2 separate regions of the Homo sapiens genome follow, and region 1 is linked to region 2. Evidence: fine-mapped expression QTL. A gene starts in region 2. The other region holds a variant in brackets. All regions are shown on one strand. Distances are between the middles of the regions. Region 1 overlaps ZNF638 (zinc finger protein 638). Region 2 holds the start of ZNF638 (zinc finger protein 638).

Region 1 (5,381 bases), 37 kb before region 2:
TCTCTCACCATATACAAAAATCAAATAAAAATAGATTAAAGACTTTTATCTAAGATCTCTAACTATGAAACTACTACAAGAAAACACTGGAGGAACTCTCTCTCCAGGACATCAGTCTGGGCAAATATTTCTTCAGTAATACCCCACAAACACAGGCAAATGCTGTACAAAAATGAACAAATGGGACCACTTCAAGTTAAAAAGCTTCTGCAGAGCAAAGGAAACAACAGACAACCCACAAAATGAGAGAAAATAATTGCAAACTATCCATCTGACAAGGGATTAATAACCAGAATATATAAGGAACTCAAGCCACTTTACAGGAAAAAAATCTGACAAGGGATTAATAACCAGAATATATAAGGAACTCAAGCCACTTTACAGGAAAAAAAAAAACTAATACTCTGATAAAAAAAAAATGGGCAAAAGATCTGAAGAAACATTTCTCAAAAGACAACACATAAATGGCAAAAAGGCACACGAAAAGGTACTCAACATCACTGATCATCACAGAAATGCAAATCAAAACTACAATGAGATACCATCTTACCCCGGTTAAAATGGCTTTTATCCAAAAGACAGGCAAAAACAAATGCTGGCCAGGATGTGGAGAAAAGGGAACCCTCAGTATATTGTTGGTGGGAACGTAAATTAGTACGATCACTATGGAGAACATTTTGAAGGGTCCTAAGAAACTAAAAATAGGATCAACCATACAATCCAGCAATCCCACTGCTGGGTATATATACCCAAAAGAAAAGAAATCAGTATATTGAAGAGGTATCTGTACTCCCATGTTTCTTGCAGCACTGTTCACATTAGCTAAGATCTGGAAGCAAACTAAGTGTCCATCAACACATGAATAGATAAAGAAAATGTGGTACATAACACAATGGAGTACTCTTCAGCCATAAAAATGAATGAGATTCAGTTATTTAAAATAACATGGATGAAACTGGAAGTCATTATATTAAGTGAAATAAGCCAGGCACAGAAAGACAAAGATCACATGTTCCCACTTATTTGTGGTATCTAAAAAATCCCACAATTTGTGGGCTCTAAAACAACTGAACTCATGGAGACAGAAAGTCGAAGGATGGTTATGAGGCTGGGAAGGGTAACAGGGGGTAGAGGAGGGGATAATTAATGGGTACCAAAAAAAAACAGAATGAGTAAGACCCAGTATTAGCTAGCGCAACAGAGTGACTATAGTAAAAAATAATTTAATGTTACATTTTTAAACAATTATAAGAGTATAACTGGATTATTTGATACACAAAGAATAAATGTTGGAGGGGACAGATATCCCATTTTCCATAATGTGATTATTACACACTGCATGCCTGCATCTAAACATCTCATGTACCTCATAAATATATATACCTACTATGTACCCACAAAAATTAAAAATACAATAATTTTTTTTAAGATATAAAAATATTTTCTCAACACCCTATTTTAAAAAACACACACATACACAAAGAAAACCTTACAGGTGAGATATACATATAGCTTTTTACTTAACAGAAAGCTCATCCTTAAAGGGTAATTTAAAGTAATTCTATAGATATTATCTACGATCATATGAACTGAAGCACAGAAATGATCTAGAAAAATTAAAGTTACAAAACTTGATACTTCTAAGGAAGTAAAGGCCCAAAGAATGTACACTATACGATTTTGTTTATGTAAAGTTGAAAACAGGCAAAACTCAACTATGGCATTAGAAATCAAGTTAGTGTTTACTTGTGAGAAGAAGGGAGGGTGTAAGAATTGGGAAGAAGCAAGCAAGGGACTTCCAGATACTGTCAAATGTTCTCTTTTGTGACCTAGGTACCAGATTCACAGATGTTTGCTATTTTTGTGTTATATATGGCAAGTATTTTCTCCTAGTCGTCGTTATTTAATACTGTATATAGCACCATACATGTATGAGGAAGTTTTAATTTCAACATACTTGAATTAATGCACATATAATGTGTTGAGCTAACATTTATGTTTCTATGCCTATTTCTATATGTGTGCCATACTTAAACAAAAAAGTTAAACTAAAACAACAGTGATAAAACATTTAAGACCTAAATCCAGATTACCTGTGCTTTTTTCTTTCCTGGAACACATATTTTCACACTTTTTCCTTTTATCGTAAGAGGTGTTGTTTCAATGTACTTCATAATTGCAGTAATTGCCTCTTTAAATTCCATTTCTAGGTAAGCCTAAAATGAAATTTATTCCATCTTTAGTCACAAATCTATCTTTAAAAGTTCCTGCATTTTAAAATGGGCTTAATCCTTTCTTTTGTAACATCAAACTATGAAACTACCTCAAGTCATGGTTGCTTTTGCCTGTTTTTATTTTGGTCAAGTATAATTTGATTAAGGATGTTTCACACATTAAATGGACATTTAACCTTACATAATTTCTATACCACTACCAAGATAAAAAAAAATCCAGGCAGGCTCATGGAAGAAGAGGAAATGAGAAGGCAGGGCTCACTGAACAACAGGAGGGAAGGGAAGATATGGTCCAGCTTGTGGTAGGTCTGACATTTTAAAGGCTTCTTGCAACAAAGACAACACTATCACTATGTTCCCTGTCCTGACTCACAAACTTTTTAAAAAAATTAAGACAGAGGTCTTGCTATGTTGCCCAGGCTGGTCTTGAACTCCTGGCCTCAAGCGATCCTCCAGCCTTGGCCTCCCAAAGTACTGGGATTACAGACTTCAGCCACCACACCCAGCCTTAACTCACAAAACTTTTTTTTTTTTTTTTTTT[TG/G]AGACGGAGCCTTACTCTGTTGCCCAGGCTAGAGTGCAGCGGCGCCATCTCTAGTCACTGCAACCTCTGCCTCCCGGGTTCAAGAGATTCTCCTGCCTCAACCTCCCACGTAGGTGGGATTACAGATGTCTGGCTAATTTTTGTATTCTTAGTAGACACGGGGTTTCACCATGTTGGTCGGGCTGGTCTCAAACTCCTGATCTCAGGCGATCCACCTGCCTCAGCCTCCCAAAGTGCTGCGATTACAGGCACAAGCCAACACGCCCAGCCTTAACTAACTATTTTATGTTGTGCTTATGTGAAGAACTGTTCACAGTTCTTAACTTTATCATGTGAGTTATAGGAATATAACCCACAGAAAATACTTAACCATACAAAGGAAATAATTTGTTTTAGTATTATCTAACTGGTGTTCTAAAGTAATGACTGGCAAACTATGGCATACTACCTATTTTTGTAAATAGTTTTTTGGACACAGCCATGCTTGCGCATTTACATATTACTTATAGCTGTTTTTGTACTAGAATGCCAGAGCACAGTAGTTGAGATCCTACAGATGGCTTATAAAACCAAAAATATTTAGCTGGCCCTTTACAGAAAAAGTGGGCAAACACTTATTTTAAAGGATATAAAACATTATTTTGCGGCCTTGCTTATTCACATCCAGACATTTATATAACTCTCAAAGAACAATTATATATGCAGTACAAGCAGCTAAGGAACACAACAGCAATTTATAGAATCATTAAAGCAATCACTTTGTATGAATTTTTGCCACAGACTAAATGACTCACCTCTTTTCTATATGGAACAATTAGGACATCATTCACTTTCCCAAATGGTTGAAATAATTTTCTCACATCTTCTTCAGTACAACCATCCTCTGGTAATTCAGTTATAAGAAGAACCGAACCATAATGCAATGACTGTTCTTTCCGAAGCTATTTTTGGAGTGAAAGAAAATTTAAAATAAACCAAATTAAGCTACAATGTACAGTAATAATTTCCTATATAATTTCTTCTACCACTAATATTAGTACACTAAAGGGTCTTTTCCATATTTTTTACCCATTTTTCTTTTTCCTTCACCACCTCCTTTACGCATTTTTAAATCACGATTTTAACACTTTAATAAGATTTTAAATGCAAAAGTGGTAAGAAATGTTATTTATATTTTTTAACCCAGAAATGGTTTACAGGTGCTCTTTTCTGTTGATAGCATCTTATAGCAAATAAGATCTATGGAATGTTCCAAGGCCATTAGAGAGAATTTTTCTATGAAACTACATGGCCCACCAACAAGTAAAGCTGAAATTACAGCTTTGCTTACCCCCTCTGTTCTAATAATTGGAAATGATCTCTAGACAGGTATAATATTTTTAAAAATTCATATATAATGCATACCATTTGAATACACTGTAGTATCAACTTTACCGCTTACGTTAAAAATTACAGCCAGGCATGGTGGCTCATGCCTGTATCCCACTGCTTTGGGAGGCCAAGGCAGAAAGATCGCTTGAGGCCAGGAGTTTAAGACCAGGATGGGCAACATACTAAGACTCTATATTTTTAAAAAAAAAAAAAGGCCAGGCCTGGTGGCTCACGCCTGTAATCCCAGCACTTTGGGAGACCAAGGTGGATAGATCACAAGGTCAGGTGTTCGAGACCAGCCTGACCAACACGGTGAAACCCCGTCTCTGCTAAAAATAAAAAAAATTAGCCAGGCGTGGTGGCACACGCCTATAATCCCAGCTGCTCAGGAGGCTAAGGCAGGAGGCAGGAGAATCACTTGAACCTGGGAGGCGGAGGTTGTGTGAGCCAAGATCACGCCACTGCACTCCAGCCTGGGTGACAGAGCGAGACTCTGATTCAAAAAAAAAAAAAAAAAAAATTAAAACACCCAGCTGGGTGTGTTGGCGCATACCTGTAGTCTTCTACCTGGGAGCCTGAGGCAGGAGGATACTTGAGCTCAGGAACTTGAGGCTGCAGTGAGCTATGACTGTGCCACTACACTCCAGCCTGGGTGAGAAAGCGAGACCCCCATTTCTCTTATTTTTTACTAAATAAGAAAACTTAAAAAAAAAAAAGTTCCACTGCCACCACCTAGAAGTCTTGAAACAAAATGAAAAGAACTTCATATTATGAGACTAACTCAGCCTCTTCAAAATTTTCCCTATACTCAAAAATTTCTTCCCAATGCTCTTCAAAATTCTGTTAATTACTGGTTGATTATCAGAAGTTTATCCTTCTAAATGTAAGTTCTTTGGGGCAGGGAACAGCACTTACTGAAAGTCTTTCATGTATTTAAATACTGTTGAGAGCAATGCATTCCATACCTAAATACTTGAAGACTTATTAATATTAAAATATACAAAATATTTGATATTGGGCCTATTAGGATTTTCTCTGAAGATAGTCTCTTGATGTTTTAATATATTAATAGTGATTTAATAAACACATACAATAAAACAATACCTTAGTATCGTAACCAGTAGGTTACAGTCAAAATAACACTAATAAATCAGTACCAAAGTATAAATTTTACACTGTACAACAGAGTATTTGACTTCTGAACTGTACCACAAAAAGTATAGAACAGATGAAT
Region 2 (5,381 bases):
CAAAACCCTTATTATTCTTAACCCTCACCGGAGTTTTTTTTGTTTTTTTTTTTGGAGACGGAGTCTAGCTCTGTCGCCCAGGCTGGAGTGCAGTGGCGCAATCTCGGCTCACTGCAACCTCCACCTCCCGGGTTCACGCCATTCTCCTGCCTCAGCCTCCCGAGTCGCTGGGACTACAGGCGCCCGCCACCACGCCCGGCTAATTTTTTTTCTATTTTTAGTAGAGATGGGGATTCACCGTGTTAGCCAGGATGGTCTAGATCTCCTGACCTGATCCGCCCACCTCGCCTCCCAAAGTGCTGGGATTACAGGCATGAGCCACCGCACCCGGCCCTCACCCGCATTATTACAGTTGTGTGTTTTATTTCTACATCTCACCTTTTCCTCACTCTTTTTCCTTTCCATTATTCTCTTCTCATCTTCTATATACTTATTTTCCTTCCATTTTAATTTTCCATCACAAATTTCAAAACACTAAACAAAGTTAAAGCAATTAAGAGTAGATAAGCTGGATACACATGAGGGCTTATTAGCTTTAGCCACAAACATAATTACTTTCAATTTGGAGAGTCTCTAAAACCACTACATGGCAGCATTCATTAGCGCCTGTTTCCTTGCAAAACAGCCCAAGCTATGTTACTGGGTACCAATACTGGAAGTACTGTTTCTAAGTATATAAGGCATTTTATTAAGGATTTGGACAAATTTAGTCCAAACCTTAATCAGTATACATTAAGGTACAGTGGAAAGAGCATGATTTAGAGTCCAGGCTCTGGTGACTACCAGCTGAGTTCATTCACTCAACATCTGAGCATCTAATACATACCAGGCACTGGGAAAGATACAAAGACTAACGTAACAATCATATAAATGGTTACAATATATATTGATAAGTTCTACAAGAAAGGCATGTAAAAAGTTTATAGAAGCACAAAATATTTTAATGAAAGTTAGATTAGAGGGCCTTTCAACTCCAAAATTCTATTACTCTAAATCCTTTTAAGCCGTTTAATTAGAAGAGAATACCCACAGATTATAATTTTCTATCAAACAATGCTGCCTAAGCACTTCAATTTTGAAATACAAGTAACAGCTAACATTAAGCACCTAGTATGTGCCAAGGAATACGAGCTTTCCATACACTGTCTCACTTAACAGTCACTCACAAAAATCCCAAGCAGGAAGTAATAATGTCACCATTTTAGAGATAAGGAAACAAAAGCTCAAGAAAGACTAAAATAATTTACCAAAGTCTCACACATACTGAGGAAAAGGGAGATGTGAATCCAGATCTTCCGACTGCAAAGCCTATTCTCTTTCCACTAAACTACTTGTCTCATTTTCTTCCACTTACATAAAAACAAAATTTCCGGAGATCACCTACTTAAGAGCACCCAAGAAAAACCCTAAGATAGTCAAGTACAAAGTGATGACTTTTTTAAACTACAGTACCTAAACCTTTTTAACCTAGAGTACCTGCCGTATACACCCTCCAAAACAAAATGCAAAAAAGGATTACAAAACAAATACAACCAATATACAATAAATATGTGACCATAAACACATTATGAAAACTAGTTAATAAAAACGAATAAGATTTTGTGATTTCTTCCAACTGTTATATTTACCCTTTCTTGGTTCCAAGACAAATAAATCCCCAAGGAAGGAATGGCCCAGCATATTTTAATGTATAACATGCTGGGACGCCCTGTAATTATTTAGAAGTACATATTACAGAATATGGAGTACAAAATAAAATATAAAATGCTGTCAAACTTTTTTAAAAGACAGCAACATAAGTCCACTAAGTCTCAAATGTCTAATCATTAACAAAATTTAAAGCTATTTGAATGTCATTTACATGTTTGTTTTTCTCCGAAAACTTCCTTAAATTCACCTTTTTTTGGTCAATCCTTTTCTCCAGGTTATCAATTTTTAATTGTAAATCTGAACCAGCAAGCACAACATCCCTGAAAAAATAATCCTTTACAACAAATGAGGGGAAAAAGCAGAAAATTTTTTGTGCAAAATTCCAGAGCTCGTTGGAAAAAGTACTTGAACATAAATCGCTGGATCCTGGTGACAAGTTTTTCATCGGGACTCCTTTAAACTACTACAATTTCTGGTCCTGGCCCCAAACTTCGCCTAAGGACAAATTTTAAGATTAAGAAAAATTAGCTTCAGGTAGCCTTCACTCTATAGCTCAATCCATGATTTTGTAATACTGAAGTATCCCTCATTAACAATTACCTCAAACAACAAAAGATCTATTTCAAACGTTCTCAAGGATTCCAGTCTGTGATATATACATTCCCCCTTCCTTTAAGAGAACGGGGCCCAAGCTAAGAATCACACAAAAACAATTCACTAACGTTCTGTTTTCACAATTCCTCTGAGAAATTTGGAAATACTGTTAGGTATCACAACCATTTATGAGTCCTCAGTCTCCCACAGAGGTGATATTTTCTTTGGTTTCATACCTGCACTACGCAGCACAGAACACCAGCCCGGAAAAGCCGCTGGATCCTAACATTCCCTCCTTCATCCCGACACCCCCTCCCCAACCCCAAACACAAACACGCTCTTCTCTCCACGCTTCTTGCACAATGTCGCTGGTCAGAGGGCTCGGCTCAAACTCCACCGCCTCTTCGGGCCCGACGGGAACGCTTCCTCCCTGCTCGGCATTCCCTCACCACCGCTTCCTCGGCTGTCAGGCCCAGCGCAGCCTCGGCAGGCCGGGCGCTGCTGGGGAAGGGGCCGCCTCGGCCTCGCCAAAGGGCTCTTCACGATCCTCGGCCCAGTGCAACGGCGTCAGGCAGCTCTTCTCGAGGCAGGGTCCTTCACGAGTACCCGGACGGGCCCTCCCGGGTAGCGAAGTGAATAAACGACGGAGCAGGGCAGCACAGCACAGCTTCCCTTCCCATCCCGGGGGTCCCCCAACCTCCTCCCGCCCCCGCCGTCTGCCCGCCGCCATTTTGTGCGGAGCCGCTGCGACACAGATACAATAGTCGGCCCGGATCTCACAGGAAGGGCTCAGGACCCCCACGATACCGGCCTCCGCCTTCCAACCCCCTACTCCCCACAGGGCAGCGGTCCTACCTATGCCTACCCGACTAACAGCTGGATCCCATCCGCGCCCCACACAGTTTAGCACTCAGCCTCCAGTCTCGACGCCGAAAACGCTACCGCCTCCAAAGAGCTGCACGCATGCGCGCCTCCCAGCTCCTGCGAGCCCTCGTAGGCTCCCGGCGCCTGCGTACCGCTGGCACCGCGCTCGCCCGAAGCCCGAGAAGAGCCGGGCGGAGCGGGCTCCCGGAAGGGGCGCTCCCGCGTGGTGGCGGCGAAGGCGTGCGGCAAAAAAAAAAAAAAACTCCAGCGCCGTCTTCACTCTTTTGCTGGTTCTGTGCCTGTCCTCTCCAAACCGCTCATCCTTTTAAGACCTATATTGTCTCACCTCCTTCATGAAGTCTTCCCTGATCATTTGTGCCTTCAATAATAACATTATATGGCCAGGCGCGGTGGTTCACGCCTGTAATCCCAGCACTTTGGGAGACCGAGGTGGGTGGATCATCTGAGGTCAGGAGTTCGAGACCAGCCCGGCCAACAGGGTGAAACCCCGTTACTAAAAACACAAAAAATAGCCGGTGGCGCGCGCCTGTAGTCCCAGCTACTAGGGGGTGCTGAGGCAGGTGAATTGCTTGAACCCGGGAGGCGGAGGTTGCAGTGAGGGAAGATTGCACCACTGCACTCCAGCCTGGGCAACAGAGTGAGACTCCATCTCAAATAATAATAACAACATTATATTATAACAGGTTATATTCGCGCCTAGCACGTTAATATAATGCTTTGTATGGTCAAGATTTTGCCTGCTTTTATCCTGTCACCTTGCACCTTTTGATCCCTATGGCAATGATGTGTGTCATAGCTACTCAAAACTGTAAAGTAGAATTCAACCAAAGCTATTCAGCTAAAACTTTAACACTCTGAAAATCCTTTTGTCATTTCACAATAAAAAGCCCTATCTGTGTGGTAGATATTTGTAATCTCCATTTTACCCATGGAAAACCTTGGGATGACAGACGTTAAAGAACTGTGTTATGCAATGTTTTATCTTCTCGAGGTGGCTGTACTACACCAATATGAAAACCCAGTCATTGTTCAAAATCTGGTAAAGCTACAAGCCCTGCCGTATGCATACCACACAAATCACACCACCCACCCTGAGTCTCACACATCGGTTTTACCTAGCACTCAAGCAAATGCATTTCTTTTATTCACATTAAAACAAGCATTTGAAAGACTAAAAAGAAAAGTCGTTTTAAAAAGATATCTTATCGGATTTTCATTTCAAACCAAAAATCCTGCTAGGGACAACAAATCAAAAACAACAAAGAAAAAGCCAACAAGCTCCCCCTAAACACCAAATAACCCATGTTAACATTTGATAAGTTTCCTTCCATACATTTCTTTATATTCATACAAACACATTATTTGCATGTAACAGGAAATGTTTTCTTTTTTCACACATTAGCTATTTGCTTTTCTGATTACTGACATTTCTCCAAGTAAACCATATAATCCTTTTTTAAATAATTGTATAATATTCATAGTATAGCTGCCTCAGCAATTATTCAGCCTGTTGTTGAACACTGAAGTTGTTTCCAGTCTTTTTGCTACTGCAAACACTGCTGTATACAAAGACTTACCAAATTATGCTTTAATTTCTAAAGGCTAGAATCATCATAGTGGGAATGCTAGATTAAATGTATATGTGTGTACATACATTTAATTTTAATAGGTGTTGTAGAAAAACTTCCCAAAAAGTTTCTACAAAGTGTCACTTCCACTAAATATGTAAGAAAATAGGCAGGGCAAGGTGGCTCATGCCTGTAATCCCAGCACTTTGGGAGGCTGAGGCAGGTGAATCACAAGGTTAGGAGTTCAAGACCAGCCTGACCAACATGGTGAAACCCAATCTCTACTAAAAATATAAAAATTAGCTGGCTGTGGTGGTGCACGCCTGTAATCCCAGCTACTCGGGAGGCTGAGGCAGGAGAATCACTTGAACCCAGGAGGCAGAGGTTGCAGTGAGCCGAGATCACGCCACTGCACTCCAGCCTGGGTGACAGAGTCAGACTCTGTCTCAAAAAAAAAAAAAAAAAAAAAGAAAATAACCATTTCCCTACAAACTCACTTCTTTCTCAAACCTGAAATACTTTAAATATCATTGGACTTACCTGTTCTTTAAAGTTTGAAATAATTCACCTTTGAAATATCTTGTTTGGTGCTTTTTCTGAGAGTTGTTCTTCTCTAATTTTCTCTTGATACTTTATGATATTTAGTTGGATAAGAATTTCTCTCTCTTCCACAATGAATTTGGT

What was found.
Region 1: its variant is fine-mapped to the expression of ZNF638 in whole blood (INTERVAL, PIP above 0.99).

What each region holds. Positions count from the first base shown.
Region 1 is chr2:71,366,718-71,372,098 of GRCh38, reverse strand. It overlaps ZNF638 (zinc finger protein 638), which reads right to left. Exons shown (of 28, transcript NM_014497.5): 7 at 3,571-3,717; 8 at 2,094-2,216. Among named protein-coding and RNA genes, the nearest start is that of ZNF638, 38 kb to the right of the region's middle. The variant TG/G (reference allele first, on the strand shown) is at 2,776.
Region 2 is chr2:71,329,594-71,334,974 of GRCh38, reverse strand. It overlaps ZNF638 (zinc finger protein 638), which reads right to left and starts at 3,193. Exons shown (of 28, transcript NM_014497.5): 1 at 3,100-3,193. RefSeq lists enhancers at 2,227-2,912, 2,913-3,600 and a silencer at 3,184-3,393.